Linked DNA regions of Homo sapiens. The protein of the gene in region 1 interacts with the protein of each later gene in a biochemical or structural test. Each region holds a gene or a part of one and is shown in the gene's direction. Other genes may lie near its edges.

Region 1 (5,465 bases):
GCACAAATTGTCCTGTCCTAATAGTCTTGATTATAATTATAAAATAATGGGTTTCTGAAAGGCTGCAAGCAGTTCTGGGAATGGCAATAAAGGTTTAGAAATGACGTGATGTTTATGAGAGAAGTGTTTTGTTGAAAATTAAACTCACGTTTAGGAGAAAGGATTGTGTTGTATGCTCCTAGGAAACTATCTCACTATGTAATTAAATCAAAACCAGCCAGTTACCAATTTGAGCTCTTGACTCATACTAACAACACCCCATTTCCCATGGGCCAAGCAAGGCAGGACTGACCTGAAATAACCCAGCCTGACTCTATCCACAGCCACCCCAGGACCTTGCCCCTCCGTCTTCCTAGGGCTCGGCCGTGAGATGCTAGTGCATGACCCTTCCTCTTCCTGGGACTGTCCTTGTCTTTCCCTTTGGACTCTGGGAGGTCTGTTCTCCTCCTCAGAAAGGAATAAACACTCTTTCTATTTGTGGGATTCCCTAGGAGACACTATATAAAAATATAGAGTTAAAAAAACTATTTAAAAAAAAGACAACTTCATGTCTCTACTCTGACTTCATTCTTTTTAAGATGGGTAACAAAGACTCTCTTCAAGGTTAGAAAATTTTATTTTAATTTTTATAGATTTAGAGAGTGCAAATGCAGTTTTGTTACATGAATATATTGCATAATGGTTTAGTCTGGGCTGTTAGCGTAACCATCAACTGAACAGTGTACTTTGTACCTATTAGGTACTTTCTCATCCCTTAACCCCTTCCCACCTTTCTGAGTCCTCAATGTCTGTTATTTCATTCTCCATGTCCATGTCTACAAATTATTTAGTTTCCACTCATAAGTGAGAGCATGGATGGAACTGGAGAAGAGTATTTTCTATCCCAAGATCGGTTCCTTGATCTTGTGTCTCCAAATCACTTGCTCTCTCTCTTACATCTTTTCTATCTTCTTCTAGCCTCTTTTTGCAAACTTCATTTTGACAAAGAATTCCAGGCAGTCTACAGCTGATTTTATTTCAATACAACGATTAAAATGGAAACCATATATGAAGATGACAAAGTTGAGCAGGTCCCAAACTCTCACTTTTAAACAAATGCTTGGCTTAAGAATCACTTAATGACTTTCATTCTGCTATCTATGTGTCTGTGTATCTAGGTACTAATTATCTATCTTTATGATCTTTATTGCTAGAAATTCTGGTTCAATATCAGAGGTTAGTCCTAAGGAATTTATATTTTAAAATATTCTCCCAGTTTTCGTGCACAGACAGATTTGGGAATTACTGTTATAATGGAAAATGGAGAATAACCACCCACATTTAATATGGTTATTGGTTTTGTTCTTGAGATTTATTGCTAAGATTCATGATAGCCCAGGCAAGGTCAGATAATGTATTTTTATTTTACACTGTATAGTTGATTCTTCTCAATCCCACTAGATCAGACTCTTTGGGATACTAGGATTGGCCTATTTGATGGTGAGCTCACTACATCCATTTAGATGTTGTGTCCATGCAATCATTTTAGTTCTCCTAGTTTCTACCTATCACGTTGTCATTTTCCCTTCTTTATCATCCTGGGTAGCTGAGACCCCACATAAATATATACCAGAAAAATGTTGTGGTCTTTTCTAAACTCTCTGAGGCATCTGTTGTCAATGTGATGTTGTTTTTTGTTTCCAGTCCAAAATATATCAAAGTAAAATTTAACTCCACTTTTGCTAAGTATTCATCTTGCCTTGAGTACTAAGATTCCAAAAATGACTTTCCCCTCTGAAAAACACAGGATTTCCTTGCGAAAACTTGCTGGGCCACTGCCAATCTTCCCAGAAACTCCTTTTTCCTTATCGTTGAGGGGAATTGGGGAAGTGATCACTGACGGTTGAAATTCAGTAGTTTTGGTCTTTAAGCTGAGACCCTGAGTCTTCTGAGGAGTCTACTGCTCCCCAGTGGGAAACACCTGCTGTCAAAATTTTCCTGCTTGCAAAGAGCACTTTTGAAATTAATGGCAGGGGATGAATATCTGGCTAGTGCTGTGCTCAGCTGAGTTATTAATAGGGCCTTCTGAGTCCTCTCTACACATCATCTTTGGCTGAATTAGCTGTGGTTTCAGCACCTGAGAGTCTAGCACCACTAAAGGCAGGGAATACCTTTGCCAGTTTCTGGCATATTAACAGCTGAGATCAGATAAGTGAACAGCGATAGAGGTAGTGAGGTTTAGGATTCAGGTCTGCCACCGGGAGCGCACCTCTGGGCTCAGGTCTCTCATTTGTAAAATGGGACATTTAGGTCAGATCAGCATTTTCAAAAGTGTGACATGTTAGTAAATAAGATGATTTTATGTGGTTGACAGATGAATGTATTACCTTTAGTGGTTATATGTTTATTTTCATGGTTACTTTTATTTATAATAAATTTTGTGACTAGCTAAGAATCAATTATCTCTTTAAAATATATTTAAGTTTAAAATGTGGGCCAACTTAGGAAAAAAACGGGATGAAATGAATTATATAAAAGGTATGCAGATTTGGAAAAATTTTGAAGGTGTCACAAGAAAGATTGGCAGTCAGAAAGGAATGAACCAAACGGCTGCTGAGGGTCAGGCCAGCTCTCTGACATTCTAGCATGTTCACATCTCCAGGGCTGTTTCCTTACCTATAAATTGTGGCAATTGGAGTAAATGTCCATTCCAGGAATTCTATTCTATGATTAGAGGTGTAACTTCATCATCCAGATTTTCCAGCATCCTTAACATGTGGTTTTAGCGTTCTAAACCTGATGATGCTATATCAAAACGGGAGACTCATTCGTCAAGTCATGATGTATCCATGTATTTATAATATTTCCCATGTTCCCTCATTTCTGAAAAGGATTAAGCTATCAACCCCATTGAGTTATAGGTGAAAGGCTGTGGAAACAAGACATTGATAGTGAAATGGCTCCACCACTAACAGGCTGTTGAACAAAGGCAAATCTCTTGATCTCTTTGCTCTTTGGTCTCTGTTTATCTATGAGATAACGTTATTTTTACGCTGTCTTCTGTGAAAGTTTTGAGAATGAAATGAGACAGAGCCTCCAATAAAATTTAGGGAAGTGCTACATAAATGCAAGGAGTTATTATGATAACAGATTGAAAACTCCTCCAAGGAGGAGTTTCTCTTTTGCCCCATGTTATAAACTCAAGAATATCTTCCATTTTGCCTACATATTCCAAAAGCTTTTAAATTAAGCTATATGTCATTCTTACAGGAGTCTCCTCTATTTCAGCAATGTGTATACTTGGTCAGTTTTAATTATCTTAAAGGAGAAGAATACAGTTTCTCTAAACTCAAGCACTTTTGTGGACTAATCCTTGCAATTATTCTTTCTTCTTTCCCATACTTGACATTTAAAGTGATATCTCCCAGGCTCCTACACTGTTAGTCACAGAGGTACCATTCGACCCCTTGTGCCTCTTACCATATGTGAATGCTTGTCAGTTGAGAGTAAACTTTCTTCATAAATTTCACAGTTGTGGATTGATAAAAACAGAGAACTCTGGTTCCTCATTCCTTCCTGCTTTCTTTCTTGAAATGCCATTCATGATGGTCCCTTATATCACTATAGGGCTGCTATCATCCTTCATCCTTATGCCACTGCAAATAGCAACCAACAGTGTCCTTAGTGCCAGCACTCCCAGGCATGCCCCTTTCCAAGCAGCAGGGTCAAGCCGCTCCCTTCCTGAGCTGTGGCATCTGTCTCTAAATCATGCTTCCTCCTTGCCTGCTGCAGGCCCTTGTCTCTGCCCTTTACTTTTTCTGGCTCTTGCCACGGTTTTGAATAAAACTCTTCCAAATATCTGAAGCTCAATTCTGTTGCCATTCTAAGCTCTCTAAATGTCACCACAATCTTCCTTCCTTTGCATTTTCTTATTGTGCACTAAGTTAGTTCTTGCTTAGTAAGTCTTGTCTTTCTCTCTGCTTTGACCTGTCAGTATTCCAACTTCCTTATTTTTTGATGTTCATTTTCTCCTTGCTCTCTTTCTTCCTTTCTTGTCTGTGAACTCCATTAACCGCTTCTGCATGTGACCATTAATGTGCCTGTCTTTCTTCTCATGTATTAGAGAGAACAAAAGCTTTGGGAATCAGACAGATCTGTGTTCTGATCCTGTCTTATGGTATCTGTCTTGTTTGTCTCGGCTTAAAATGGGGATAATATCTACCTCTCAGTTTTGTTGGCAGTTCAGTACACGGAAATAAAGTTCTCACTTTCTTTTTTCTCCTTGAGAGTGTTCTTTATTTTACTCATCTGGCCATCTAATATTTATGAAGAAGCTACTCTGTGGTTGAAAAGGCACATGAAGCTGCAGAAGTAAATGACCAAGAAGTGCCCTCAAAGTTACGGAGTTCAGATTCATTTTGGCAAGAGAGGCATGTCAATACACACACACACACACACACACACACACACACACACACACACACAATGTTATGCCAAAATGCAGGGTGGTGGGGAGTGGAGGGTTGTTCTTCCTAGAAGCAATCAGAGAAGGCTTTACAGAGGAGGGCCCATTTGAGCTGGAAATTGTAAAAGAACAGCTCTGCAGATGGATCTTTAAATTCTTAACCTAAAAGAAGAGCAAAAATGTAAATGATAAATCTGGGAAGTAATAAGTAGAAGACCATGTATAGCAGAGTTGAGGAAAGAAACAATATAGTATAAATACTGAATTACATGAAAGCTAATAGTTAATTGGCATCAGTTGACCCTGACAAAGACATTTATCTGGACTATGTCTCAATTTGCTTATCTGTCAGTTAAGGATGATATATTAAATGAGTGCTTATACAAACAAAGTGCTTAAAACAGTGCAAGGCACTTCACAGTCATCAAAAATGCTAATTTTTTGTGTGCTTTCATTATGAAATGGGGAGCATACAGCCCGACAGAAGCCTAGGTAATGTCTCAGCATTAAGCCCACTGGTTTGTGGTGCCTTGCATTTAGGAGGCCCAAGTCCTTATCCTGGTGTTGATACAAACTTCCTGTGTGACACTGGGAAGCTATAACTCAGTCTTGACATAATACAACTTGTTCTTCGGCTTCAAAAACTTTCCCAGAATTGGAGTGACCCTACCCTCCCTTTCAAGAAACAGACAAACATCCTAGAATGTTACAACATAAGGGTTGAAGAAGCTGTTGTTAAGTGATCATCTTGTTACCACAAAATTGTTAAACTGCATAACAGAGTTATGCAATTTCTTCTTCCCCTATTTTTTATTTTATTTTTCCATAAGGTATTGGTATTTCATTACATGAGTAAGTTCTTTAGTGGTGACTTGTGAAATTTTGGTGCACCCGTCACCCAAGCAATATACACTGCACCATATTTGTAGTCTGTTATCCCTCTCCCTCTTGCCACTCACAGCATTTGGGGTGTCTTCTGGGTCCTGCAGGAGCAGTCCACTTCCTTGAGAGGTTTTGTGGG
Region 2 (5,132 bases), 2.6 Mb from region 1:
GGAGAGACAGGGAGGCCAAGCAGGGGATTCCCCTCAACCTTATTTCAATGAAAGCCCCTCCACTTATCTATTTTGTACACTGAGCCTCCTCATGAAATTTTATTTGATGAAAGGGCTCTGTGCAGAAAAAACAGAATGTTTTTGTAAATTGCTGGCCTAGGTTAGCATACCTCATTTTAAAGAGGGTGAAACTGAGACATAGAGAAGGGAAAGATCTTTCTAAGATCTTCCGCCAGTTGGCAACAGGGTCAGGTTGGAATCCTAGGTCTTCTGACTCTTGCTCTTGGAAGCCAGGGACAATCTTAAAAGTTTCAGAATTAAGACATTCTTTTAGAAAAGAAAAATGAGCAGAGTCTTATTCTCTCAACAGCCTTAACTCACACGGACCGAGCCAAGGATGACTAGTATCTCCGTATTCATTATCTATTACTGCATACCAAATTACTTTAAATCAACACTCATTTATTATCTCATGGTTTCTAGAGGTCTAAGCACAGCTTAGTTGGATTTTCTGCCTCATGGTCTCTCATGAGGTTATTGTCTGTGTTGGACAGGGTTGATGTCTCATCTAAAGGCTGAATTGGGGGATGATTAGCTTCCAAGCTTGTTGATGTGGTTGTTGGCTGGACTCCATTTCTTGAGAGATATTGAACTGAGGGCCTCAGTTCCTTCAAAGCTGTTGGTCCAAGGCTACCCTCAGTTCCTTGCCACATGGGCTTCTCCAACAAGGCCATTTACATTAACAAAGCCAATGAGAAAGAGAGTTACCGGGCATGGTCGCTCACACCTCTTAATCCCAGCACTTTGGGAGCCCGAGGCGGGTGGATCACTTGAGGTTAGGAGTTCGAGACCAGCCTGGCCAATATGCTGAAACCCCGTATCTACTAAAAATACAAAAAAATTAGCCTGGCATGGTGGTGGGCACCTGTAATCCCAGCTACTCAGGAAGCTGAAGCAGGAGAATCACTTGAACTTGGGAGTCGTAGGTTGCAGTGAGCCAAGATCGAGCCATTCCACTCCAGCCTGTGCAACAAGAGCGAGATTCCATCTCAAAAAAAAAAAAAAAAAAAAAAAAAAGAGAGAGAGAGAGAAAGTCTATAAGCAAGAGGCACATCACAATCCTGTGTAACCTAATCATGGAAGGGATATTCCATCACCTTAGTCATATTCTGTTTGTTAGAAGAAAGTCACTGGGCCATCCCACACTCAAGGGGAGGTAATTGCACACGTATGAGAATGCCGGGAGGCAGTATCAATGGGGCCACCTTAGAGTCTGCCTGCCACAGCCTCCAGCACTCCAGTGTCACCAATTTCTGGCAACCTCTTATCAATGACAAGTTCACTCAACCCTTCAGTACCCTCACTGATGAGTAATAAAAAAATTGATCGAGACCATGGTGAAACCCCGTCTCTACTAAAAATACAAAAAATTAGCTGGGTGTGGTGGCGGGCACCTGTAGTCCCAGCTACTCAGGAGGCTGAGGCAGGAGACTGGCGTGAACCTGGGAGGCGGAGCTTGCAGTTAGCCGAGATCACACCACTGCACTCCAGCCTGGGCAACACAGTGAGACTCTGTCTCAAAAAAAAAAAAAAAAAAATTCTGGCAGCCACTAAAGTGGACTAGTTTTTATTTAACATCCTCCCATGTATATAGTGGAGCCAAGTGTTTTGATTAGTTGTTTTAACTCATTGGTTAGCCATAATTTCTCTTGAATTTCACCCCAGGGAGGGGCCTTTCACGGCAATGATTCCAAATGTATTTTATTCTAAAGCAAGACAGTCAGTGTGACCAAAACTAAAACTCATCCATTGTTCCTCCCTCAATCTATTCCTCTCAGCAGATATAATGAATAGTAACATCTTCGATTAATTCTTTTTTCTTTACTAACCCCACACACAAAATGTTGTAGTCTCTACTGCCTTGACAAGCAAATCTGTTCACTGCCTCCCCACTTTCTTGATCACCACCCCCTGCCCCACCTCCATTACCCCTGTAGTTCAGATCTTAGCATCTCACAGATGGGCCACTGCAACAGCTTTCCCACTGGCCCCCAGCAACCCAGCCTTCCCCTTCTTCAACCTGAGACATAGAGGTTAACATTCCTGGGCCTCAAGATTTCCAAATGCTTTTCTTCTGCCTGCAAAAAAGTCCAGATATTCTGACATTCAAGATTCTCCATGATCTTGCTTCTGGTCTCTAAACAGATCCTGTACTTCAGCTGTCATTCATACTGTTCACATCAACCCTTTTATTCTTTTTATATCCTTGTAAATGCCATTCCCTCGTGCCTAGAATATCCTTTTTTATGTTTTTCACCTATTCATATTTTTCTCTCAAAATTCAGTTCAGGCACCACTTCCTCCAGGTAAATTAGATGCCCTTTTACTGTCATCTCATTCTACCTATGTTTCTTTTTTTAAATCTATCATCTCCTTTATCATCCTGGAATGGCCTGTCTGCCCCTCTTGACAATATAGTTCCTAAAAGAAAAAATTGTATCTGGTTTATCTGAAACCTAGCACAACTGGAATAAAGTTAATCTTTAGCAATTAATAGGAGTCCTTGCTGTGTCCCAGATTTGGACATCCTCTTCCTTAGCAGTTTGCTCAGAAAGCCCAGAGCTTGAAGTTGTTTTCACGCTTCACCCACTGGCTTGCAAGTATGCAGTGTGATGACACAACATGTGATAGGAGGAAACCATCCCAGCCCTAGGACAGGAAACTGTCTCAGGACACAGACCTCAAGGAATGTGTTTGCTTTCAGAGGTGGCCTTCAGGATAAAAACACAAATTGCTTTGGATTTGGAAAAACCAGTACCAAGGACAGAGGAGTCCTGTCTGGGGATTTGAGGCTGAGTCACAAGAGATAGCTGAAAATCTGGAGGTTATAACAAAGATTAGTCAACAACTAATAGGAGGAAAGAACAGGCTCAAGGGTGGGATGGAGACAAAGAGCTCTCTATCTTAGGACATGGAGAAGCTCACAGCCCACAAGAAGAAATGAATAATGGTTAAGAGTATGACTTTGGCATAAGAATCCTCTGGGTTTGAGAGGTATTTGCTTGCTATGTGATCTTGGCCAAGTTACTTAGCTTCTTTAAGCTAATTTCTTCTTATCCATATTAAAAGCAAAGTAGTAGCACCTAGTTTAAAGTTTATTGTGATGATTAAATGATGTAGTTCATGAACACTGCTTAGCACAGAAACTGGCATTCAATATAAATGTTTTGTTGTTGTCATTGTTTTGTTACCTGTTGATCAAATAGTTCTTGATGATAAGATCCCACTAGAGAAGCAGTTCCCAAAAGTGTGTCATGTGGAAAAGCATTCTCATGGGAATCACCTAAAAAAGGGTTTTGTGGCCAAATGAGTTTGGGAAACACTTGGTACTCTTCTGTTCTTGGAAATGCACAGCTCATATGTCCATTCAATACATAGTTTTAGGGCTGGTGATACAATAGAAAGCAATACAGTCAAGATCCTTTTATTCATGGTGTTTACATTATGGTGGCATATCTTAGTTTGTACAAGCTGCTACAACAAAATACCATAAACTGAGTGACTTACAAACAACAGAAATTACTTTCTCACAGTTCTGGAGGCTGGGAAGTCCAAGATCAAGATGGCACCTTATATGTCCTCACATGGCAGAAGACATAAGGCAGCTCTATGGGGTCTCTTTTAATAAGGGCACAAATTCTATTTATGAAGCCTCTGCCCTCATGATCTAAGTACCTCCCAAAGACTCTGCCAACTAATATTGTCACACTGGTGATTATGTTCCAATGTGTGGATTTTGAGGGAACACAAACATTCAGACCATAGCAGGGGGAAGGCAGACAATAAAAAGGAATCACATAAACTTATAGCACAATTTCAGGTAGTGATATTTGCTAAGAAGAAAGACAAAACAAGGTAAGGGCATAAACAATGACTGGTGGTGAGAGGAGTGCTCTTTTAGATGGGGTGAGAGGTGAATGTGCCATTGTGCAGATGTCTGAATGAAATGAGAGAAGGAGCTCTGTAGGCAATGGCTAGGAGTTTGAATTTCATTCTGAGTGTGGTTAGAAGCCAATGGATGGTTCAGGGAAGTAGAGTGCATCATCTGAGATATCTTGCTGTAATTAATCTGTTCAACTTTCGTTAGCCCAGTATCTCCAAACATACCTGACCATAGGACATCTACCTAAAAACATCTTGCAACGTAGTCTGGGAAATTCTTCACTGGAGCACAAGGCTTCATAGATTTTAAAGGGACTGCAAATTTGCTCTTGTTCATCTAGATCTGCACTAAAAATCCAAACATACTGCTTGGGACAAAATAGGCATGCCCAGGAAGGAAAACCTAGCTCTAGAGGTAGAGACAAGCAGGATGTCATCCTAATTAGCAGCTCTTTTTGGCAAAGACAATCAATGAGCACAGCCAGGCCTCAGCAGATTCTGGAAGCCCATTTGATGCCAACGGAAACTCGCCAATATCTACCCAAGGCTAATAAGTGTTTGCAAACAGTACACCTTGGCTTAAGTATTCTCCAAAAAGGAAGTACATAAAACTTGAGATCCAGCCAGAGGTTCTGGGAGAAAAACAGAGGTCAAATATTTTGGTGCTTACATGTGCACAGCCACCAAAGAGCTGCTGAAGGTCTAGGAAATGGAAAGTGAGTTCATCCACTTGAATGCTGATCTCTTTCTTTATGGAGCAGTAAAAATTTAAGTTTTTACCTTATCTGAACTAAGAAAATTCCTTTAGGAGTCAGCCCAGTGTAGCTCAATGTAGTTGAAAGCAGACATTTTAGAACCACAAATAAATCAGGATTCAAAAGCTGGCTCTGCCTCTTAAGCCAGTCATGGAAACTCCCTGAGTCTCAAATTAATTTTCAAATAAGCATAATAATACCTAACTCACCAGGTTGTCATGACAAATGACAAGATAAATGATAGCATGAATAAAAAGCATTTAGTGTAAGATTTGGCATAAAAATGTATATAATAGGCACTCAACAAAATGTTAGTTTCCTTATTGTTCAATTCAATCTGTATTTAGTTTCATAATAGAAGCTGTCATTTATTGAATAACTACTATATTCCAGCAGAGGTTAGCAAACCATAGGGTGGCAGCCTATTTTTGTAAA

Evidence for each region. Proteins that work in one complex are often made in the same cells at the same time.
Region 2: the proteins of TLR4 (region 1) and TNC form a complex in vitro, tested with the Homo sapiens proteins (one study listed by IntAct).

Annotation. Positions count from the first base shown.
Region 1 is NC_000009.12:117,720,471-117,725,935, forward strand, and holds the end of TLR4 (toll-like receptor 4 isoform A precursor), read left to right. Parts: 3' UTR 1-4,265; downstream 4,266-5,465.
Region 2 is NC_000009.12:115,107,345-115,112,476, reverse strand, and holds part of TNC (tenascin isoform 1 precursor), read left to right. Parts: intron 1-925; exon of another isoform or gene 926-1,048; intron 1,049-5,132. UniProt on the Homo sapiens protein: Extracellular matrix protein implicated in guidance of migrating neurons as well as axons during development, synaptic plasticity as well as neuronal regeneration. Promotes neurite outgrowth from cortical neurons grown on a monolayer of astrocytes.